Homo sapiens: one gene and its partner. The protein of the gene in region 2 purifies or fractionates together with the protein of the main gene of each other region. This does not show direct contact. Each region holds a gene or a part of one and is shown on either strand. Other genes may lie near its edges.

Region 1 (10,611 bases), on a different chromosome or scaffold from region 2:
CAGTTGTAGGAATAAACTGTGGCTATGAATGCAAAAGGGAAACAAATTTAATGTCACTTTCACCATGCACAATTTACAGTTGCTAGTAGTAATCAGAACTTTCAAACTGCCTTTAGTGTGTTGAACATTTCACTTATAAAGTTCAAGTAATATTATTACTATTTTTCTTAAAAAGTTAAAAATAATAAGGTGGGTATTCTCTTTTTTTCTTTTTTGGCAGTCACTGATTATAGCAAGGGTGGTTATTTCTGTCTTTCCTCTTAAGAAAAGGAAGCCTAGATATGAAATTACAGGCCCAGTTATCACCCTAGCCAATTTTGCAGTGCTAATGCATCTTCTGTATTGACATTTGGGAATTCTGGGATCTGAATGGGGTAAAAACTAGGCCTTTGGTACTGAGCCCATCTAGGACCCTATCCTTACCCTGGCTTGATTTCAGACTGGTGCCTCACAGCGCTGTATCGGATGGCAATGGTGCACGCCTTAGACAGAGCCCGAGCAGCTTCTCCCACAAGGAAGGACCTGACAAACACCATGGTCCCGTAAGTCAGCTTGTTACTCAGCGGTTTCACGTATGTGCCATCAGGCTTCACCTGGAAGAAGAACGTGGAACTGATACTTCCTTCTTTTAAGCCCAAGAGGCAGTTCAGTGGTTCTCAAAGTGTGGTCCCTGGAATAGCAGCATCAGCATCACCTGGCAACTTGCATGAAATACTACATCTTAGTCCCCACCCTGACCAACTGAATCAGAAACTCCAGGGTAGGGCCTAGCAACCTGGGCTTTAACTGGCCTTCCAGGTGATTCTAACGCATGCAAAAGTTTGAGAATCATTGGTTTAGCAAATCAAAATATGTCCTTCAACCCTGACAACTGTTTCTGATTTCACTGTCGCAGTAAAAGAAGCATCAGAGTGGGCGTGATGGCTCACGCCTGTAATCCCAGCACTTTGGGAGGCCAAGGCAGACAGATCAAGAGGTCAGGAATTCGAGACCAGCCTGACCAACATGGTGAAACCCCATCTCTACTAAAAATACAAAAATTAGCTGCGTGTGGTGGCACGTGCCTGTAATCCCAGCTACTCAGGAGCTGAGACAGGAGAATCGCTTGAACCTGGGAGGCGGAGGTTTCAGTGAGCTGAGATTGCGCCACTGCACTCCAGCCTGGGTGACAGAGCAAGACTCTGTCTCAAAAAAAAAAAAAAACCAAAAAATGCTGGGTGCGGTGGCTCATGCCTGTAATCCTAGCACTTTGGGAGGCCGAGGCAAGAGGGTCCCCTGAGGTCAGGAGTTTGAGACCAGCCTGGCCAACAGGGTGAAACCCCACCTCTACTAAAAATACAAAACAATTAGCTGGGTGTGGTGGCGCATGCCTGTAATCCCAGCTACTTGGGAGGCTGAGGCAGGAGAATCGCTTGAACCCAGGAGGCGGAGGTTGCAGTGAGCCAAGATCACGCCACTGCACTCCAGCATGGGTGACAGAGACTCTCTCTCTCAAAAAAAAAAAAAAGGGGCATCAGAAGGAAAAATGCATTATTAGCTCCTTTTTTTTTTTTTTTTTTTTTGAGACAGAGTCTCGCTGTATTGCCTAGGCTGGAGTGCAGTGGTGTGATCTCGACTTACTGCAACCTCTGCCTCCTGGGTTCAAGCGATTCTCCTGCCTCAGCCTCCTGAGTAGCTGAGATTACAGGCGTGTGCCATCACACCCGGCTAATCTTTGTATTTTTAGTAGAGACAGGTTTTCACCATATTGGTCAGGCTGGTCTTGAATTCCTGACCTTATGATCCATCCTCCTTGGCCTCCCAAAGTGCTGGGACTACAGGCATGAGCCACCGCGCCCAGCCTTATTCCCTCCTTTTATGAGACGGAGTCTCACTCTGTTGCCAAGCTGGAGTGCAGTGTCATGATCTCTGCTCACTGCAACCTCCGCCTCCCGGGTTCAAGCTATTCTCCTGCCTCAGCCTCCTGAGTAGCTGGGACTACAGGTGCGCACCACCACGCCCAGCTAATTTTTTGGTATTTTTAGTAGAGATGGGGTTTCACCATGTTGGCCAGGATGGTCTCCATCTCTTGACCTCATGATCTTCCCGCCTCAGCCTCCCAAAAGTGCTGGAATTACAGGTGTGAGCCACTGCGCCCAGCCTCCTTTTTTTTTTTGAGACAAGGTCTCACTGTCATCTAGGCTGGAGTACGGTGGCATAATCACAGCTCACTGTAGCCTCGGCCTCCCAGGCTCAAGTGATCCTCCCACCCCAGTCTCCCAAGTAGCTGGGACTACACACGTGTGCCACCATACCCAGCTAGATTTTTTTACTTTTTGTAGAGATGGGTTCTCACTATGTTGCCCAGACTGATCTTGAGCTCCTGGGCTCAAGTCATCCACGCACTCAGCCTCCCAAAGTGCTGGGATAACAGGAATATGCCAGTGTGCCCTGCTGTTATTACCTTCTAAAAGAACAGACCATTCTAACCCTATTGTGAGTAACAGCCACTCAACTCCACTGTTTGATGCCTCTGCTTTATTTTCTATCAAAACATACCTGGGCATACTTCATCAGCATGTTTTCTCTGGGAATACGATGGTTGTCCATTTTGAGGTAGCCATTGTCTATCTCATCATAACCAAATTTGGGGCCGATGTCACCAACGGTAATTCCTACCACAGATGAAAGGACAGTCACGAGATGTTTATGCTCTGGAATTTCTGGCTTTTGCTCCGCCTCTTCAGTTGGGCATTCTACCTTTTGCAGAAGAAAGTGCTCAGTTTCATTTTCATCTCAACATCAGATGAACAGTTCTTACCTGGCAAAGGCTTATGGGTCCCGATTTCACGAATAGGTACGATAAAGGCATGTAATCCATAGCATTTCCCCTTAGTGATGAGCTGGGCAAGAACTATTGCATGATTTGAAGTCTTTCCAACTGTAATATCAAAGAGAACAAGGGAGGGGTGGGCAAACGTTCATACATTTTTAAAGGGTAGAAAAAAGAAGAAAGAATATGTTAAATCTAACACTAGACTAAACCAATAGTATGTGTCCAGAAAGCCTTTCTGCTGACAGCATCACACCTAGCTTTCAGAAAGAAATTCCCTTAAGCTAATAGTTATTACTTTCTTTTCTACTTATTTCTCATACATTTACGTAGAGAAAATTTTAGGATAAAAATAAGAATATTAATTTAAACTACTTCCTTGTTATCCCTTAAGGCAGTGCTGTCCAAAACAGTAATCACTAGCTACATGTGGCTTCTTACATATAAATTATAAATAAATAAAATATATAATGTGAATAACAAAATCCTTCAACCACTAACTGTATTGGAAATATATATTCCAAGATAATAACTCAGAATGGAATAAGAAGATATAAAAGTTTCGGGTCAGCCGGGCACGGTGGCTCGCGCCTGTAATTCCAGCACTTTGGGAGGCCGAGGCGGGCAGACCAGAGGTCAGGAGTTTGAGACCAGCCTGGCCAACATGATGAAATCCCATCTCTACTAAAAATACAAAAATTAGTTGGGTGTGGTGGCACGCTCCTGTAGTCCCAGCTACTCAGGAGGCTGAGGCAGGAGAATCGCTTGAACCCAGAAGGTGGAGGTTGCAGTGAGCGGAGATCACACCACTGTACTCCAACCTGGGTGACACAGTGAGACTCCATCTCAAAAAAAAAAAAAAGTTTGTGTTAAAACTATTTAAATTTTTTTCTTTTTTTTTTTTAAGAGACAGGGTTTCACTCTGTCACCCAGGCTGGAGTGCAGTGGCATGATCACAGATAGTAGCTCACTGCAGGCTTGAACTCTTGGGCTCAAGTGGTCCTCCCACCTCAGCCTCCTGAGTAGCCAGGACTATAGGTCTATAGGTATGTGCCGCTATGCCTGGCTTTCCTCTCTCTCTCTCTCTCTCTCTCTCTCTCTCTCTCTCTCTCTCTCTCTCTCTCTCTCTCTCTATATATATATATATATATATATATATATATATATATACACACACACACCTCTCTCTGTCTATATACACACACACACACCCCTCTATGTACACACACCACACACACATATATTTGTTTGTTGGGTTGTTTTTGAGACAAAGTCTTGCTGTGATGCCCAGGCTGGAGTGCAATGGTGCAATCTTGGCTCATTGCAACCTTCCCGGGTTCAAGTGATTCTCCTGCCTCAGCCTCCCAAGTAGCTGGGACTACAGGTGTGCGCCACCACACCCGGCTAATTTTTGTATTTTTAGTAGAGATGGGGTTTCAGCATATTAACCAGGCTGGTCTTGAATTCCTGACCTCAAGTGATCTGCCCACCTCAGCCTCCCAAAGTGTTAGGATTTCACCACCAAGTCTGGCCGACATTATCATAAAAGCTCTACATTCTAAGCAAAATCTCATGACAAACCTTCAAAACATCCAATAAATGCTGAAAAATTCACTTACGCCCACCAGGCCACCATTTAATGGAGGTCACAGTAGGACTGTTGAGAATGAACTCCTGGGTTTCAGGGTCATACGTGGCTGTGGTTTCCAAGCCTCGAAGGTGAGTTCCTAAGGAGATAAATTACATTGACTTCAGTTAAGAGATGGGGAAAAAAATAGGCACAAGGAAAAATTTCCTGCACAGTCCTTTAAACTCTCATATCTCAGAGAAAAACAAAATCTAACAAAAAACACCTGTAGATGAGCTACAACTGGTTGATAACCAAGACACTGAATTTCCCACACTATCTGATGGTTTCCTATTAAGTTGAAAATCTAAGTGTCATGCATGTTCCATTTCTGTATTTGATTTGTTACATTTATTTACAGCAACTGAAAGAAAATATAAAGGCAACTTAGAATCACATTTTTAAGATCACAATATATGAATTTAACAGGGATGTTAACTGTCTTTTTAAACCCATCTCTGAGTTGCAAGTATGCCAATTTCAAGTCATATGTATTGTGTTAACCACACCAATTCAACATTCTTGAATTCTGTACTAATGAGAAGAATGAGATAACATGTGAGAGGAAGACATTTCAGCCAAAATTCGTATAAATTAAAAATGTATGGCTGTGCGTGGTGGCTCATGCCTGTAATCCCAGCACTTTAGGAGGCCGAGGCGGGTGGATCACGAGGTCAGGAGATCGAGTCCATCCTGGCTAACATGGTGAAACCCGTCTCTACTAAAAATACAAAAAATTAGCCAGGCATTGTGGCATGCGCCTGTAGTCCCAGCTACTAAGGAGGCTGAGGCAGGAGAATTGCTTGAACCCGGGAGGTGGAGGTTGCAGTGAGCCAAGATTGTGCCACCGCACTCCAGCCTGGGTGGCAGAGCAAGACTCCATCTCAAAAAAAAAAAAAAAAGAAAAAGAAAAAGAAAAAGGCCAGGCACAGTGGCTCAAGCCTGTAATCCCAGCACTTTGGGAGGCCGAGGTGGGGGGATCACGAGGTCAGGAGATTGAGACCATCCTGGCTAAAGTGGTGAAACCCCGTCTCTACTAAAAAAACAACAAAAAAATTAAAGCTGGGCACGGTGGCTCACGCCTGTAATCCCAGCACTTTGGGGGGCCAAGGCGGGCGGATCACAAAGTCAGGAGATCGAGACCATCCTGGTTAACACGGCGAAACCCCGTCTCTACTAAAAATACAAAAAATTAGCTGGGCATGGTGGTGGGTGCCTGTAGTCCCAGCTACTCGGGAGGCTGAGGCAGGAGAATGGCGTGAACCCGGAAGGTGGAGCTTGCAGTGAGCTGAGATCGCGCCACTGCACTCCAGCCTGGGCGACAGAGCACGACTCCGTCTCAAAAAAAAAAAAAAAAAAAGTATAAAAGTATAACTGTTATTGGGGAAATGACCTGAAATGTGACTTTTAAAAATTCCTAAAGGTCCAATAATAAGGTCTCAGTTGACCCTAGAGATTTCCAATGGCAGGCCTAACTTAGTCCTGCTGGTTCATTAATGTGGCAAGGAAGAGTTTCCAGTTTCTTATGTGTACTGGGATAGACAGGATCTTATGTTTTAAATCTTAACACAAATATATCAAAATTATTTGAAAAGAGTCATAGAAAAATGTTCTAGGTGGCAGTCTCTACAAAAATACTGTACTAAAGCAAACGTTGGGAACCTTTTACCAATCTGCTTTCATAACGCTTAGACCTCATTAAACACACTTTGAAACATTTAGAAGCTTCCAAGTTGAATAACCAACTTATGTGCAATCCACAACTTTCCCGAGTGGGAGTCAACAAATCAGACACAGACATCTTTCATCAAAGAAGCAGCTTTTACAGAAAAGCAGATAACATTAAACAGAACAGATAAGGACAAAATGTTTTCAAAAGCACAACTGAAACAAATAGTATTCCACTTGGAGTCTCATGAAAATCCTGTAAAATACTATTCAACACCAAATAAAAAGCAGCAGCTGTATAGAAATAAGGAGCAAGTGGCAAATACACACTAGACCAGTTTTTCTGAAACGTCAGAGCAGAAAAAGAGAAGCCATAAGCAAATGAATGGCAAACACGGACCCAATTCAGAGAAGATACAAAGAGGAACAGCGGCCACCTCCAGCCCACCCAGGTGCATGAAGAAAGCAGGTGGGGGGTGGAAAGATCAATGAAAGGTGGAGATACAGAGTCTGAAACCAAATGCCTGCAAGTTCGGCTTATCTTGGTTTTTTCACTCTCCAGCCAAGTCACTTGCAGAACTACTGATTGACTCAAAGTACAAATAACTCCAAAATGTCACACACGTCAGTTATAAGCTACTCATTTCCCTCAAGCAAATCCAAGAGTACACAAACTATTATTTGTATTTCTTCTGGAATTTGTACTCATTAAGGTATCAGTAGTAAAGGTAATCAGATAGTAATGAAGAAAAAAACAGCTTCGGGTTGTATATGCACACAGATTCTATACAACCTCAGTAACATTGAAAAACCACTTGGTAAATAAGGCCTGATTTGCAATTCTTGACCCTCTGAAGGGGAACTATGGTATAAAAAGGACAATCATTTTATCAGTATCATGGTCTTTAATTCCCACTCACCAAAGCAGTGTTTATACCAAAACCTGGACTCTGCAGAAAGAGCTCATTTAAACAGACCATAGAACATCGACACACCATCGATGGCACATGGTGGGCACTCCACACATGGTAAGCTCACAGGGGCCCGCCCAACCCAGAAGGTAGACTGAATACTCCATACCATGACCCATCTCTGTCTGGGCATAAGTGCCAATGATCTCCAAGTTCCAGGCGGGCATGAAGAAGCGCTCCTGCTGCTCCGCAGTTGCCTGGTGAAGCAAGGTGGGCAGGAACATGCCCAAGTGAAGATCCAGAGGCTCAGGCCGCCCTCGGTGCACAAAACTTCGAGGAAATATCAAGGATGGGCATTTGAGAGAAGAGTCATCAGGTGTGAGAGAATCAGCAATTTAAATAGAGCAAGGGAAGGAGACAAAAAAACCTTAAGTATGAATTAGTTGCGTGCACTTAATCATAGATGGGAGCACTGTCCCTTTCTGTATTACTTTATAGCTCTTGTTAATTTCCATTTTTCCTGAGTCGGCAAGGAGTACGAGGACAGGGATTGGTTACTGATTCCAAAGCCAATGCAGCACAAAACCACACGTGCAAGGCAGAGGATCCTCGCCCAGGAATTAAATCAAAGGAAATAAAGAAAATTTGAGAGGCCAGTGCAGTGGATCATGCCTACAATCTCAGCACTTTGGGAGGCCAAGGCGGTCAGATCACCTTAAGTCAGGAGTTCGAGACCAGCCTGGCCAACATGGCAAAGCCCTGACTCTACTAAAAATACAAAAATCAGCTGAACGTGGTGGCGCCAGCCAGTAGTCCCAGCTATTTGGGAGCCTGAGGCAGGAAAATCGCTTGAACCTAGGAGGCGGAGGTTGCAGTGAGCCGAGATCATGCCCACTGCATTCCAGCCTGGGTGACAGAGTGAGACTCTGTCTCAAAAAAAATAAATAAATAAATAAGAGAGAATTGGCCAGGTGCAGTGGCTCCCACCTATAATCTCAGCACTCTGAGAGGCCGAGGTGGGTGGATCACCTGAGGTCAGGAGTTCAAGACCAGCCTGGCCAACATGGCGAAACCCTGTCTCTACTAAAAATACAAAAATTAAGCAGGCATGGTGGTGCACACCTGTAATCCCAGCTACTCAGGAGGCTGAGGCAGGAGAATTGCTCCAACCCAGGAGGCAGAGGTTGCAGTGAGCTAAGATAACACCACTGCATTCTAGCCTGGGCGACACAGTGAGACTCCATCTCAAAAAAAAAAAAAAAAAGAGAGAGAGAATTTGAAAAGTTGTATAGGGCCAGGCATGGTGGCTCATGCCTGTAATCCTAGCACTTTGGGAGGCTGACGCAGGCGGATCACTTGAGGTCAGGAGTTTGAGACCAGCCTGGCCAACATAGTGAAATCCCGTTTCTACTAAAAATACAAAAAAAAAAAAAAAAAAAAAAGGCCGGGCACCGTGGCTCATGCCTGTAATCCCAGCACTTTGAGAGGCCAAGGTGGGCGGATCACCTGAGGTCAGGAGTTCAAGACCAGCCTGACCAACATGGTGAGACCCCATCTCTACTAAATATACAAAATCAGCCAGGTGTGGTGGCACATGCCTGTAATCCAAGCTACTTGGGAGACTGAGGCAGGAGAACCTGGGAGGCGGTGGTTGCAGTGAGCCGAGATCACACCACTGCACTCCAGCCTGGGCAACAGAGCGAGACTCTGTCTCAAAAAAAAAAAAAAAAAAAAAAAGTTGTATAGAATGGAGAATTTGCTGGGTGTGGTGGCATGTGCCTGTAATCCCAGCTACTTGGGATGCTGAGGCAGAATCGCTTGAAGCCAGGAGTCGGAGAACAGAGAATTTGAGTGGTACTGGTACAAGGATTTCCTCTGATGAGAAAGCGAGACAGAACATAGTAGTTCTCTCAGAGTGACAGTATGACCCCCAGATTATAGTTTTTCCTCGATGCAATTTCAATAATGCTTCTAGGCTGGGATTTTTTTTCTGTTTTGTCCACAAAACATCCAGCGTAGAACCATATTCCTCACATAGCTCTGATCATTTCATTCAGATTCATCATGTCAAATATTCGGCCACGCTCTACTGAAACACTTTAATACAAAAACTGACAGTGCTCTTCATCCCAATAATTTATTTCAGAAATTAAAAAAGACATGCAATTTCTAGTGAAGACCATAATAACGACAAGTTACAGATTCATGCATAAGCTCTCCGTGACAATTATACAGAAATTATCATTAATGATAATAAACAGCTTTATTAGTTTTAAATCAACTTTCTGGGGTCATTCTTTTCCACTTAAAACGTGCAGGGGACAGGATTCTGTGTGAATTTTTGCTAGGGATAGGAAGTCGTTCTATAGGCCTTTGCATTTTTCCACATTACTGGTATTCTGTGTAATTGCCAGCTCCAAATCCGTCAACTCCATATTGCTCTTATCATTCTATGTGTCTTTGAAATGAGCATAAATGACAGTTCAGTTTTTAAATTGCTGTTTGTTCCTTGCAAGGTAGGGAGGAAAAGAACCAGGGCACACTGCTCAGACAAGTGCTAATCAATGACTTCTTCCAATCTAGTGGCTAGGCTTTCAGCTAAGCAATCACACTTTAGAAAAAGAAAAATCAAAGTATGTGTGACTGAATCCCTCATTTTACAGAGGAGAAATTAAGGCTGAGATGAATTAAATGCCTTGCTCAGGGAAAAAAGAAAATGGCAAAACAAGGACAAGAATCTCGTCACCATGGGAGCTGAGCAAGGGGTAAAACATGGACATGCAGAATGGAGTAACAGACACAGGGGCCAGGCGCGGTGGCTCACGCCTGTAATCCCAGCACTTTGGGAGGCCGAGGCAGGGGGATCACCTGAGGTTGGAGTTCAAGACCAGCCTGGTCAACAGGGTGAAACCCCATCTCTACTAAAAATACAAAAACTAGCTGGGCGTGGTGGTGGGTACCTGTAATCCCAGCTACTTGGGAGGCTGAGGCAGGAGAATCACTTGAACCCAGGAGGCAAAGGTTGCAGTGAGCCACGATGGCACCACTGCACTCCAGCCTGGGCGACAGAGACTCTGTCTCGAAAAACAAAAAACAACAACGAACAAAACAGACACTGGAGGCTCCAGAATGTGGAAGGATGGGAGGGGTATGAGGCCTGAAAAGTTACCTACTGGGTACTATGTTCACTATTTGGGCAATGGGTACTGCAAAATCCCAGACTTCACCATTACATAATATATACATGTAAGGAAATGGCACTTGTACCCCCTAAACCTATTTTTTAAAAAAAGAACCACCTTGTCACCTCGTCCTGTCTCCTAGCTGGGGAAATTACTGCACAAGCATAGCATGGACTAAAGACTGTGACTGCAGGCCGGGCGCGGTGGCTCACACCTGTAATCCCAGCACTTTGGGAGGCCAAGGTGGGCGGATCATGAGATCAGGAGATCGAGACCATCCTGGCCAACAAGGTGAAACCCCTCTCTACTAAAAATACAAAAATTAGCCAGGTGTGGCAGCGCCAGCCTCTAATCCCAGCTACTCGGGAGGCTGGGGTAGAAGAATCCTTGAACCCGGGAGGCGGAGGCTGC
Region 2 (11,573 bases):
TGAAGCAAGGAAGTTTGGAAATCTCTACTTTAGTTATCACTTTTTTGGCATACAGAAATCACTCTCACTAGGATTCTAAGCCCTAAGGGCTATGATGATGTTGATAATGATAATAGTAGCAGTAAAAATAGTGGCTAACAGACATTGAGCACTGCTATGTACCATGTTCTATGCTAAGGGAGTCTCACACATGATTTCATTTACATGCTTTATGCAATTTGCTTCCTCCTATTTTCCTTAACCCAGAAAATGTTAGTCCTAATTTTCCCATCTTCTGCCTCTAGACCTACTGGAGAAAAATTAAAAACCAGTTGACATTTCTTGCGATAAATTCAGGAAAAAACACCATAACTTTTTTTTTCTGAAAATTATAAAACCAATTTTCTATTCCCTGCTGCATTTTCAACCAACATGTTAAAAAAAATACTAATCTCTTCGAAAGTATGTAAATTTTCTCCAGAATCCTAAATAGAAATCAATCAACCAAAATGAATTCAGCACCACTCCATGTTCGGCATTGTGGATGACGAAAAGTACTTTAATGCAAGGTCTGTACCCTCAGGGGGCTTATGATTTGGTTTATACATGAAATAACTAGAAAAAAAAGTAAAAAATAGCAGTACATACTAAAGGACAAAGAGGCGGGATAGGCTTGAAACATTATGTTGAGAGAGAAATAAGCCCTAAGATTGAATAATCACAGACCAGGCCCGTCAGCAACTTACCTTTCTGTCTCATCTCTCTCTTGCTATGAACAACTTTTTCTTCCTTTCTAGGGACCAGGCCATCTCTTCCAGTAAACCAAACACTACCATCTGTCCTAAGACACCTATCCTTTTCTATTCAAAGGGAGACTCTGTTTCTCAGGAAATCACCATGATTTTAAACATCATCAAACATTAATTTTCTCCTTGACTATAAGCTTGCTAACTTTGGTATGCCCAGCAAAGGAGATTACTTCATAACTGCATTGTGCCTTTCAGCTTTTATGCATTGCTTCTTTTCCTTCTCCGGTCCAACTTTAAATTCGTGCATGTGTGCTTGTGTGTGTGTGTGCATGCATGGATATATATTATTACATATGTAGTATATTTACACATACATAGAGTATAATATATAATACACATATAATGTATAATATGCATATTATATACATAATATAAAATGTATACATAATACATAATATATACGTAATACATATTATAGAATATAGAATATACATATAACATAATATACACATAATATGTAATATATACATATATACACATATGTGTTGTATATAATATATGATATATACATATCATATACAGTATGCATATAATATATAGTACACATATTATATATAATAATTATACATTATACATAATATATATGTCTCTATGGCTTCTCTACCAATTTTTTTACTTAAGCCCTGTAACTGTCTTTATCACCTTATTACCAGTGCCATTTCCAAGTTTATCCATTTAACCATTCAACAACTATTCAGAAAGTGTCTGCTATTATGCAATGCATGTTCTAGGCACTGGGGATAAACTGATGAATAGGAAAGACATGGTTCATTCCCTCATAGATTCTAGCGAGGTACATAAACAAGCAAGACATGTTTACTATGTACTGTGACAATTGCTACGATGAATAAAATGTCAAGGTGCCGTGAGAGTCATGGTGGTCAAAGAAGGCTTCCTGGAGGAGGTGATGTGTACATTGGGTGTTGCTGGATAGAAAGATGTTAGATGGGTGTGAAAGGAATAGAAGATTTTTCATGAAGAAGGAATCCAGGCTCTAAATTAGAAAAGACATGACACACCTGAGGGACTAAAGTTAGTTTAATAATACTGGATGTAAAGGTAGGAAGGAAGTGACTTCAAGAGGAGGGTGAAAGAAGATAGTTGGGAACTAGTTAGGGGACTTCTCTGGAAGATAATGAGGAGACATGGAGTGAGTTTATGCATGTAAACATTTTTAAAAAGATGATTTTGGCTGAGGTGTGGTAAATGGAGTGAAAGGTGAGGGGCAAAATTGGAGGCAGAGAGGTAAGGAACAGGTAAAAGGTGGTGGGGGGTTTAATTAGGGGCCCAACAGTAAAGATGGAGAGGAGTGGATAGATTCCAGAGACAGGAATTCACAGGGTGTGGGACCATTTGGTTGTTGGTGATGATAAAGAGTTAGGCATCAAAGATGGTGGCTCCATTTACCAAAGTGGGAAACGTAAGAGAAATGATGCTTTCACTTATTGAAATGGGAAATGATCAAATAAAAAATGATTTTAGTTTGGGACAAGGTAAAAATGAGTCATCTCTGGTACATTTAGGTGAAGAATTGGGCCGGCTGGGCACAGTGGCTCACGCCTGTAATCCCAGCACTTTGGGAGGCTGAGGAGGTCGGATCATGAGGTCAGGAGATTGAGACCATCCTGGATAGCACGGTGAAATCCCATCTCTACTAAAAATATAAAAAATTAGCTGGGCGTGGTGGCGGGTGCCTGTAGTCCCAGCTACTTGGGAGACTGAAGCAGGAGAATGGCGTGAACCCGGGAGGCGGAGTTTGCAGTGAGCCAAGATCGCGCCACTACACTCCAGCCTGGGCGACAGAGCGAGACTCTGTCTCAAAAAAAAACAAAAACAAAACAAAACAAAACAAAAAAAAAAAACTGGGCCTAGAGGTCAAAAGAAAAGGATGGAGTGATAGATCTCGAATTTATCAAACTGTACAAGACAACTGACAATTTCTATTGGGCAAATTCGAAGGTACTGTTTTGTATTTTCTTTCCTCTGGCCACCTCCTTTACTTGAATATAGTTGATATCTTCTTGCTACTTGTTCTTTAGTTTCTCAAACATTCTGCTTTCTAGTTAGCATGTCATGACCTCAGGAAAAATTAAGCTTCTATCCAGAGTTTCCAGGAACTTATGTAGATATAGAAAAATAAGGAAAGAAGAAGGAGGAGGAGGAAAAGGAGAAAGAAGAGGAAGAAGAGAAAAAAGAAAAAAGATTAAGTCCAGCTTGGATCTGTAGGACATTGTACCCATCAATTAATTCATTTAACATACATGTGTTACGGAGCGCCTCCACCGTGTGCCACGAACATACTAGATTAGATGTTAGAGAGTCAATTGTGACTTCTGAGGCCAACAGTCTGGCTCAGAAGGTAGACCTTAAGTAAATAAATAACAATAACCAAATTAATGTATAACCATCCCCTGTAATAAGTGCTATGAAGCAAACAACATCCATAAACATTTTGGTGCTCAAAGAATAGTCCGTGGACAAGAGCCATCAGTGTCACCTGGGAGCTTGTTAGAAAAGCAGAATTTCAGTATCCACCCAAGAACTATGGAGATGGGATCTGCATTTTAACAAGACCCCTGGGAGATTTGCATGCACATTAACATTTGAGATGCACTGCTCTGGAGTTCACAGGGCTATGAGAGAAAACAAGAAGTAGATCTGAACTCATCCTGTGGGTCAGGGAAGGGTTCCCTGAACAGACGGCCTCTGGCTAAGCTAGAGAAGCAGGCAGGGGCTACATGGCACAGAGCCTCATGGGCCATGTTGAGGGCTTTTATCTTTTTCCTAAAAGCAATCTAAAGAGAGTTAAAGGTTGTCTTAGTCAACTCAGGCTGCCATAGACTGGGTGGCTTATACAACAGAAGTTTGTTTTCTCATAGTTCTGGAGGCTGAAAGTCCAACGTCAGAGTGCCAGCATGGTCAGGTTCTGGTGAGGTCTCTGTTCCTGGCTTGCAGAGAGCTGCTTTCTTGCTGTGTCTTCACATGGTAAAGGGAGAGAGAAACAGGCCTCTTTCTGGTGTCTCAGAAGAACACAAATCCCATCGTGAAGACTCCACCCTCACGACCTCATCTAAATTGCCTCCCAAAAGTCCCATCTCCAAATACCTTCCTATTGAGGGCTAGGACTTCCACATATAAATGTTAGGGGGACACAATTCAGTCCACAGCAAAGGTTTTACACAAAGGAGTGTGGAAAAATTAGACTTTTGTTTTTTAATTCCTGTTCTGACTGAAGTGTGAAAAAAGGTTTGAAGGGGTCAAGAATATATTCAGGAGACCAGTTAAGGGGCTATTTAAATCATCATGATAAAAGATACCGATAGCTTGGACAAAGCCACTGGTAGAGATGAAGCAAAGTGAAACATTTCTAAATATTTAGGTGTTAAACCTGAAAGACTTTGATAATGGATTTCAAATGGTGGTTGAAGAAGGAGGTTTAAGAATGACTGCCAGGTTTTTAGCTCATGCAGTTGGATGAATATGATATCAATTCTTGAGATAGGAATCATGAAGTCAGCAAGTTTGTGCATGGCATTTTGCTAACTGCAATGAACAATGCATTTAGAAATACCAGTAAGAATGGCTATCATTAGTGAGCATTTATTATGTGCCAGTCACTGCATAGACATTTTGTGTGCATTATCTTAATTAATATACGACACAAGCCTTGATTTCTGAGATGGAAAAATCAACTCAGGCAAGCTAACTACAGAAGACTACATTGTTAAGGGTTTCAAAGCGTCTGGTACAATAAACAATACAGAATGCTTTCACAGGAGAACATCAGAGAGGGTAATGTGGCCACAGAAGACAAGACAGAATAAAGGGAAAGGTAAGCTGAGGTCTAAAGATTGAGTAAGGCAGAAATAAGCATGACTCCATCAGGAAGTTCACTTGGGAAAACAGTGGAGAAAAAGTTGAGTTGAAAGGGAGAGCCCAGATTATGAAGGCCCTTGAAAGTCTATAATTCAGATTTTATAGAGAGAAAGGTTTGAATGTGAAAGGAACATGACTTTACATGATTTTAAAAAACCCGTCTGGCAACAAGGGAGCTTGAAGATGAGGAGGCCTGAGTTCCAGAGACTGCCTTGTTAGCATTTGTGTTTTCCAGGTAATAGGTCAGAGTTCTGGCCTACCTGGGAGGGAAAATCAACAAGGCTTAGTTTCATTGGTTGAGAATGGGGGAATGTGTCAAAGATAACTGAAGTTTCAGGAATGGGATTCATGGAATGATAGTTTCAAAGACAGCAGAGGGAGATGAGGAAGAGGAGAATCACAAATCTGTTTAAGTATATTAATAATTAAAAGTAGTTTGTATCTGTTTGACCACAGAACTAATTTAAATTTCCAGAAGTATTACAGTAGATGAAAGCCTGCAAGTTAGGATATGTGATAGAATTACATGGGGAAGACAAAGAATGTAAGTATAAAAACTGAGGGGAATAAAGCATGGTAGTTATTGAAGAAAGTAGCCTAGAAATTATATGAAATATTATGTTTTTAAGATGCAATGGCAAAATAAAAAGAAAGCATTCCATTGCATTCTGTTGCTTCATTACAGATGCGCTGAACAGTTGCTTATAAAAATCGTGCATTGGGTTCAACCTTTCAGATGAATAAAGGCTTTGTTCTGTCTTGGTCTCATCATGTAATCATCATACTTTTTTTTTCTCAAAATGTGGTATTTAGGGGAGGAAAATGTATGCTTGTTGTGTTTGCTCAATGCCATATGTTTTTGAGTTTTTGTTTTCAAGGCATACAGAAATGCTGTAGACTGGGAAATAAATAAATAAATAAATAAATAAATAACCCTTCCTAAACTTTCTCTTCTTCTGCTTTATCTCAGGAAACTCCAGCACCTCCTAGAACATCTTTTGTGGAATGGCACCTCATGGGGGCCCTTGGATCATGTACCCCTTGTATTCAACAGTAAACATCTTCCTATAATCATTGCTTCATTAACGATAATGTGAGCCAATGCACAGTATTTATCAAATGGCATCTAAGATGGTTAAAGCACACCTAATCCTCTCGTGGGTGCCTGCCAAGAGTAGAAAAGGGTAGTGTATAGATATCAATTTTATTGTCCAGCATTCCCTAATCGAAGTCCCAAGTGGTCTGAAAACTTAGACGAAAGATAAATGGGCCGCAGTAATTAACCACTGCAATAACAGATGTTATACAGGAAACCTGTGTGTGCCAGAGCTATAAGCATGTTTTGATTTTGAATACGCACTTGGGCTAGCACATTCTTCCTCAATAATGGAAATATGTAAATGTTTTGTAAGGTATTAACTGCCATGGCAGACGTTGAATTATTTTTCCTTTAAAAAACATATACATATGCTTTGTCAGATAGTCCAAGGACTTCAGTTTCATGTACAACCTGGATTTCTTTGGAATCTGCGGAGTTTCACATTTTCCCAAGTGTTCACGGTGAAGCTCCTGGCTTCGAGCTGGCTGTCTTCAAGGGTGTTTTCTTGAGCTACCCCTCTCTCTGCTCTGCCAATTATGTGCCACTTTGTCTTGGTGCTATGATTGCTTTCTTCTGAGAGGGAAATTCCTCTTTCATCAGTATGGATGCACTGTTTTTACACACTGCAAGTGCTGTGTTACTGTGTCAGTCATCCTATTAGGGCCAGTTTCAGACGAGTAGGGCTGACGAGCTGGCTGGGGATTGGCTGGCCCCGGCTGGGAGGGATTTGTCGGAAGGAAGGGCTGCAGCTTACAGCAACAGAGTTTAGACTGTCTTTGCTTCATCATCTGAAGGTAAAATTTTCCAGATACGGCAGACGGCTTTCAGAGTACAATAAACAGGGAATGAGAACTATTTACATGGAAGTTTCTTTCTCATGATGCGGTGGAGAAGCCTCGGCCACTTGGTTCTGCCAGATGTTCCTGGGGTTACTGTAAATGGGAAGGACAGGCAGAGCTAAACAAGGTAGGAGAATCGCCCCCCTTTTTTGAATGTTTAAAGAGTTTGCTGCAGTATGCTGCATTCCATGTGTGCTGCTTACGGGAGCCAGGGAAACTGGATTCCACTAATTCAATTGTAATACTTGCGGGGGACCCTGGAGTTTTACGTAACATTTTGATTTGAGAAAAAGAAATGGCAAAGCTTGAATCTATGCCGCCTGTTTGGGGTGAGGCAAGAAATCGAGTTTTTATGCAAAGAATCGATTCATTTATTATATTATTTTTTAAAAACCATTTGAATTCTTTGGAGCAATCTTATTTTCTTGCTGTGAAAAATTGTTATATTGCCATAGCTAGTTCCCAAATAGATAAAGTTTACATGGATCCTATTATTTGAAAACAGACTTGCAATTAAGGATTAAAAAAAAATTCATGGTAAATAATCATCGGTTGAATGTTTGGCCAAACGTATGTGTCTATTTATTAAAAATTAGGGACCTACCTAGCTCTACAATGCTACAGCTTTAATTGAGTTTCAAAAGCACATTTTAAACAACCTAGCAAGAGGTAGCTTTCTGGCAAGTTTTCGATACTGTAGTTCAATGTTTACATTTCTTTTCCTGGCATGTCTGAGCCTTTGTTTCCAGCTTAAAAGTGGAACCATTATATTCAAAAGTAAAGCTGGGTTAATAATGCTTACTGCAATTATCTGATCTTTATGCATTTTTAATGAGAACACACAGCCAGCAGAATAATTTAATGAGGGCAGGCTAGCTTTTAAAGCTGTGTTTTCACTATGCCGAACCATATCAACTTTCTCGCTGAGAAGCAGCAGTGAGAAATGATGGAGAAGATTTATTTTTAACACACTTGGCCCAGGAGAAGGAAAGGATATATTTGCTAAAGAATTCTTTCTGCCCTTTTCCGTTTTAAATTTCTGCCAGGCATGAGGAAACTGTGCTTTTTTGTTAGGCCTCGGAAGCATGTGTTTACAATAAATGTGTAACATTTTTAGAATAGTTAGCAAGCACTGAAGCGAAGAAAAAAATCTGACTTGCCTAACCACCACCACCTTGAATGTTCTACAAGAAACATTACTGTCCCTTTAAAAGACAAAGGTTAAGTGGAAAGCTATTTGTTAATTGGGTAATGTGTGTGTTTTGGGGACAATAAGGTTTTTAAAAAAGGCAGGGGGAACATTCTTATAATCTTTAAATAAGAGGAAGTTTCTTCAGCTATCCTACTTGTTTTGCAAGGAGCAGTAGAACTACTCATTTAAATAAGGGCAATGCCACGTAGATTCTTCTAGACCCACTGTTTTTACTTTCAAGGAGAAGTGCAGGACACTAGCCCAGAACTTCTGACGTCATCCCCCAACTATTTCTGCTGTGTGTTCCTTTATTCGAGCTTGTGGAGAGGAATATTTCTTTATGTCCTGGCCAGGAACATTCTAACTCCCCACTGGCAGGACTTAAGTTATGTCTTTATATTTTCGCCTGTCTTTTGTAAATTGTAAACCTGTCCCCTCATAAATAGGGCATCTTCTTGTACCTGCCACATGTCGGGCCGGTCAGCACAGGTTTTCTGCAGGGCTTCTGGCTGGGCTGGCAAAAAGCAGCAGGGAGCAGGGCAAAGCTTTTTTTCTGGCCTGACTCCCCCTTGGTGCAGCCCAGCGCTGCCACCTGGGTGGATGGTCCCCGGGGCCCTATTCCCAGTTGCTCCAGAGCCACTATTTAGGATCCAGGTTGTGCCACCAAGTTCAAGGCTGGTTGTGATGGTGAGAACAGCTGCTTTCATAGAAAAATCATCATGTCCTAGCACAGATGGCCCCAAGCAGGGGAAGTACAATACTGCAGGCTGCAAATCCATGTCACAGGTGGCAACCTTGGTCACAGAGATCGGGGGAAGGGTAATGTTTACAAAGGAACCTTTTAAAAAAGATTTTGACTGGAGCACATTGGAGTTCTCGGGAGTTCCCAAAGCTAATTTGTGTCTCCTCTCTGACTACTCACGTAGTTTTGAGCAAGTGCCTACCTTGATTTTTCTGTCTTTTAATAGAATTGAATCATACTTGCTACACTTTCCCTCATCATTTAGCATTTTGAGACCTTGACCTTTTACCAAAAAAAAAAAAAAAAAAAAAAAAGTTGTTTGTCTCTTGGCACATTGAGCTATTTAAAGTACAAAGGGATAAAACCTCGGTATTAAGAAACTGTTGGCAAACACCTTAGAGTATTAAGATACATAGTCATATACACAAAACCCTTCACTCTACTTTGTGCTCATGTAAATTTTTTAGGGATACTTTTTCTTAGTTCAACAAATGAAATTTCCAAGGAAATCAAAGCGTTGTTGTTTGCATTTTTTCCATCGATCTAATCTAATATACTAGAAGCTCTGCAAAGCACACTATTCTGGCCACAGGCCTTGTAGTGCCCAAAACATTTAATGCTGTTTTTCCTTTGACTTTTGTGTTAAATTTGTGAAAGTGGAGTAAATAAGAGAAAAAACAAGAGGGAAGGAGAAAAATATGCTTGTGAAATATACTGGTTAGGTAGCTTTACTGGTTAACAGCCTGCCTTCTCTCTGCTAGTTGTTTCAATTTGCTGTTGCTATGGTGAAAACAAATCAATATCACATGGCTACCAGCCAGTCCCGCGCTCAGGGAGTGCCATAGAAATTCAAGATCAGGTACTCAAGATTCCAAGCAAGAATTGGGAAAAGAGGATTTAGATGCTGAGCTTAAGAGAATTCCTTATAGTAGAATAAGTAGGTTCAATCTCTCATGCATTTTCTCTTCCTTTTTTCCTGTACTTTCCTACCGATAACAAGAAAAAGATGAAAAGGAAGGTATACTGATTTGTTTACATTTCCAAAATGACAAAACAGATTATCAACATAGAAATAGGTTGGCAACATTGCAAGGGGTGAAGGATTCTGATTCGGGAAAAGGTGGATAACTACAAGACATGTTGGTTGTTGAAAACATAGTTTTGGGGGCCTTTACCATCTTCAGGTACAGCTACATGTCAGAGCTGGCTGGGTTGTGCCAAGCAGAGAAACCTGGCAACTCTAGGGGGCAGGTGGGCAGTGGAGATAAAGGGGGTTATAAAAAGGTAGGGAGGTGTGGGCATAAAAATCAACAAGCAAGAAAGCCCAGAGAGAGCTGCAGGTCAAGAGTCAGGCCAGGCAAGCACAGATCCCTGGGGCATGGCAGAACAGGAGAGGACAGTTCGCCCTGTTCACGAAATCTGCTCAAGACCCAAGCTAAAGGCCTAGCAAAGAAAGGCAGGAAATAGCTGCAAAGAGAAGTAAAGGTGTCATGGGCCCAGGCATCCTTTCCGGAAGGGTCGACTCAACTGGATGAGCATGGATGTCCACTGCTGGGGAGAGCAAAGAGCTTGATATTTTAATGCTTTGGTTTCTCTCAGAAGAATGAGGCAGGAAGACTTAACCGGGCTTTGTAAATTAGTTAACATACTATTTTTTTTTCTCCAGTTTTATACTCTTCTCAGTTTTTTTTTTCTTTTAAAAAATGTGCACAAACTATTTGTTGCAGCCGTGATAATATTCGTAGTAAAGAGCCAAAGGTGCTGCGTGGCTGGGTCTGCATCAGGCCTGGGCCTCCGACTGCACGGCTCCAACTACACAGTTGTTTATGGAGACCAGTCCCGGCCTCCTCTGCTGAGAGTAAAAACAGGTGTGAAAGGTAAGGCCTAAGGGTTTCTTTTGTAAACCTGAGCTCTGAGGCTGATGGACGAGTTTTGGGCTGGCCTGCCCTCCTCAATACAGCAGAAACGCTTGGTAATAAAAGTGGACTCAATAATTTACCTTAGTGTTTTGACAAAGAATGCATTGTCTGAATTATACTAGGTAGTATATTCCATCAATCAGTCAACAAGTGTTTATTAAACACCTCTGGGCTTCCCTGGCTTTTGCTATTTGGTGAGAAACCCAACTCAGTAACCTAATACCTGCCTTTGTGTGTGTGTACAAAAATAAATGATGCAAAATTGTAAGTTTCAAAGACTTGAATAACTTTATTGGCTAATATTAATTTAGCATTGTTAACCATCAGATTAATTTTAGGCTTGGGGCAGTTTTAGTGATTGGGGGAGAACAAGAGATGGACTTTTGAGTTTTAGGTATCTGTATGTATGTACTTTCTTGACCTCTGTTATATTTCTCCAGATAAGTACTGTTTAAATAACATATAAAGATGTCAGATGAGCAATAGATAGATAAGAATGGTGCAAAAAAAAATCAAAATATGAAGCTACTGAGAGCAATTTCTGAGTCTCAGCATACTGAGTTTTGGCCCCAAAGTGCCTGGGGAAAATGGACATATCATCTAAAAAGCTGTAAATACCAGCCAACAACAGGAAGTCTTAGACTCCTGTCCCACACTTCTGAGCTGCAGGGTGTGGGGGAAGCCCCATGCCTTTATCTCACTGTCTCTATCTCTAGCAAGGAAACCTGTTTCCTGACTCTGCAGAATTTCGCTTTCCCCCTTTTTCCTTAAAAGCAGAGTTACAAAAAAAAAAAACAAAAAAAAAATCAAAAAAAAAAAATATATTTCCTTTTGAAACACTAAGTTTTGGGTTTATTTGTTGGTTTTACCCTAACATCACAGTTAGTGTGTATTCTCTGGGCACAGACAAGCTGCGAGGTTCAGGGACGCAGCCTGGGGGAGAGCTGAGAGAGGAGGCTGAGGATGTAGCCATGTTTATAGAACTCTTTTCAGGCATGGGTCTTGGCAGACAGATGGGCAGGTCCAAGGTTTATGGGCATTGACTGCAAGCTGGTTGCTGTAGAAGAGCTCCAGGGTGGTACATGACCTCAGAGGAAAAAGGGAGGAGTCAAGAACAC

Evidence for each region.
Region 1: the proteins of MBNL2 (region 2) and ACOX1 purify together in Homo sapiens (affinity purification with mass spectrometry; 3 studies listed by BioGRID and IntAct, with this or other methods). This does not show direct contact.

The regions. Positions count from the first base shown.
Region 1 is NC_000017.11:75,953,028-75,963,638, forward strand, and holds part of ACOX1 (peroxisomal acyl-coenzyme A oxidase 1), read right to left. Parts: intron 7,349-10,611; coding exon 7,188-7,348; intron 4,540-7,187; coding exon 4,432-4,539; intron 2,921-4,431; coding exon 2,801-2,920; intron 2,655-2,800; coding exon 2,539-2,654; intron 594-2,538; coding exon 424-593; intron 1-423. UniProt on the Homo sapiens protein: Involved in the initial and rate-limiting step of peroxisomal beta-oxidation of straight-chain saturated and unsaturated very-long-chain fatty acids.
Region 2 is NC_000013.11:97,215,803-97,227,375, forward strand, and holds the start of MBNL2 (muscleblind-like protein 2), read left to right. Parts: upstream 1-6,530; 5' UTR 6,531-6,729; intron 6,730-11,573. UniProt on the Homo sapiens protein: Mediates pre-mRNA alternative splicing regulation. Acts either as activator or repressor of splicing on specific pre-mRNA targets. Inhibits cardiac troponin-T (TNNT2) pre-mRNA exon inclusion but induces insulin receptor (IR) pre-mRNA exon inclusion in muscle.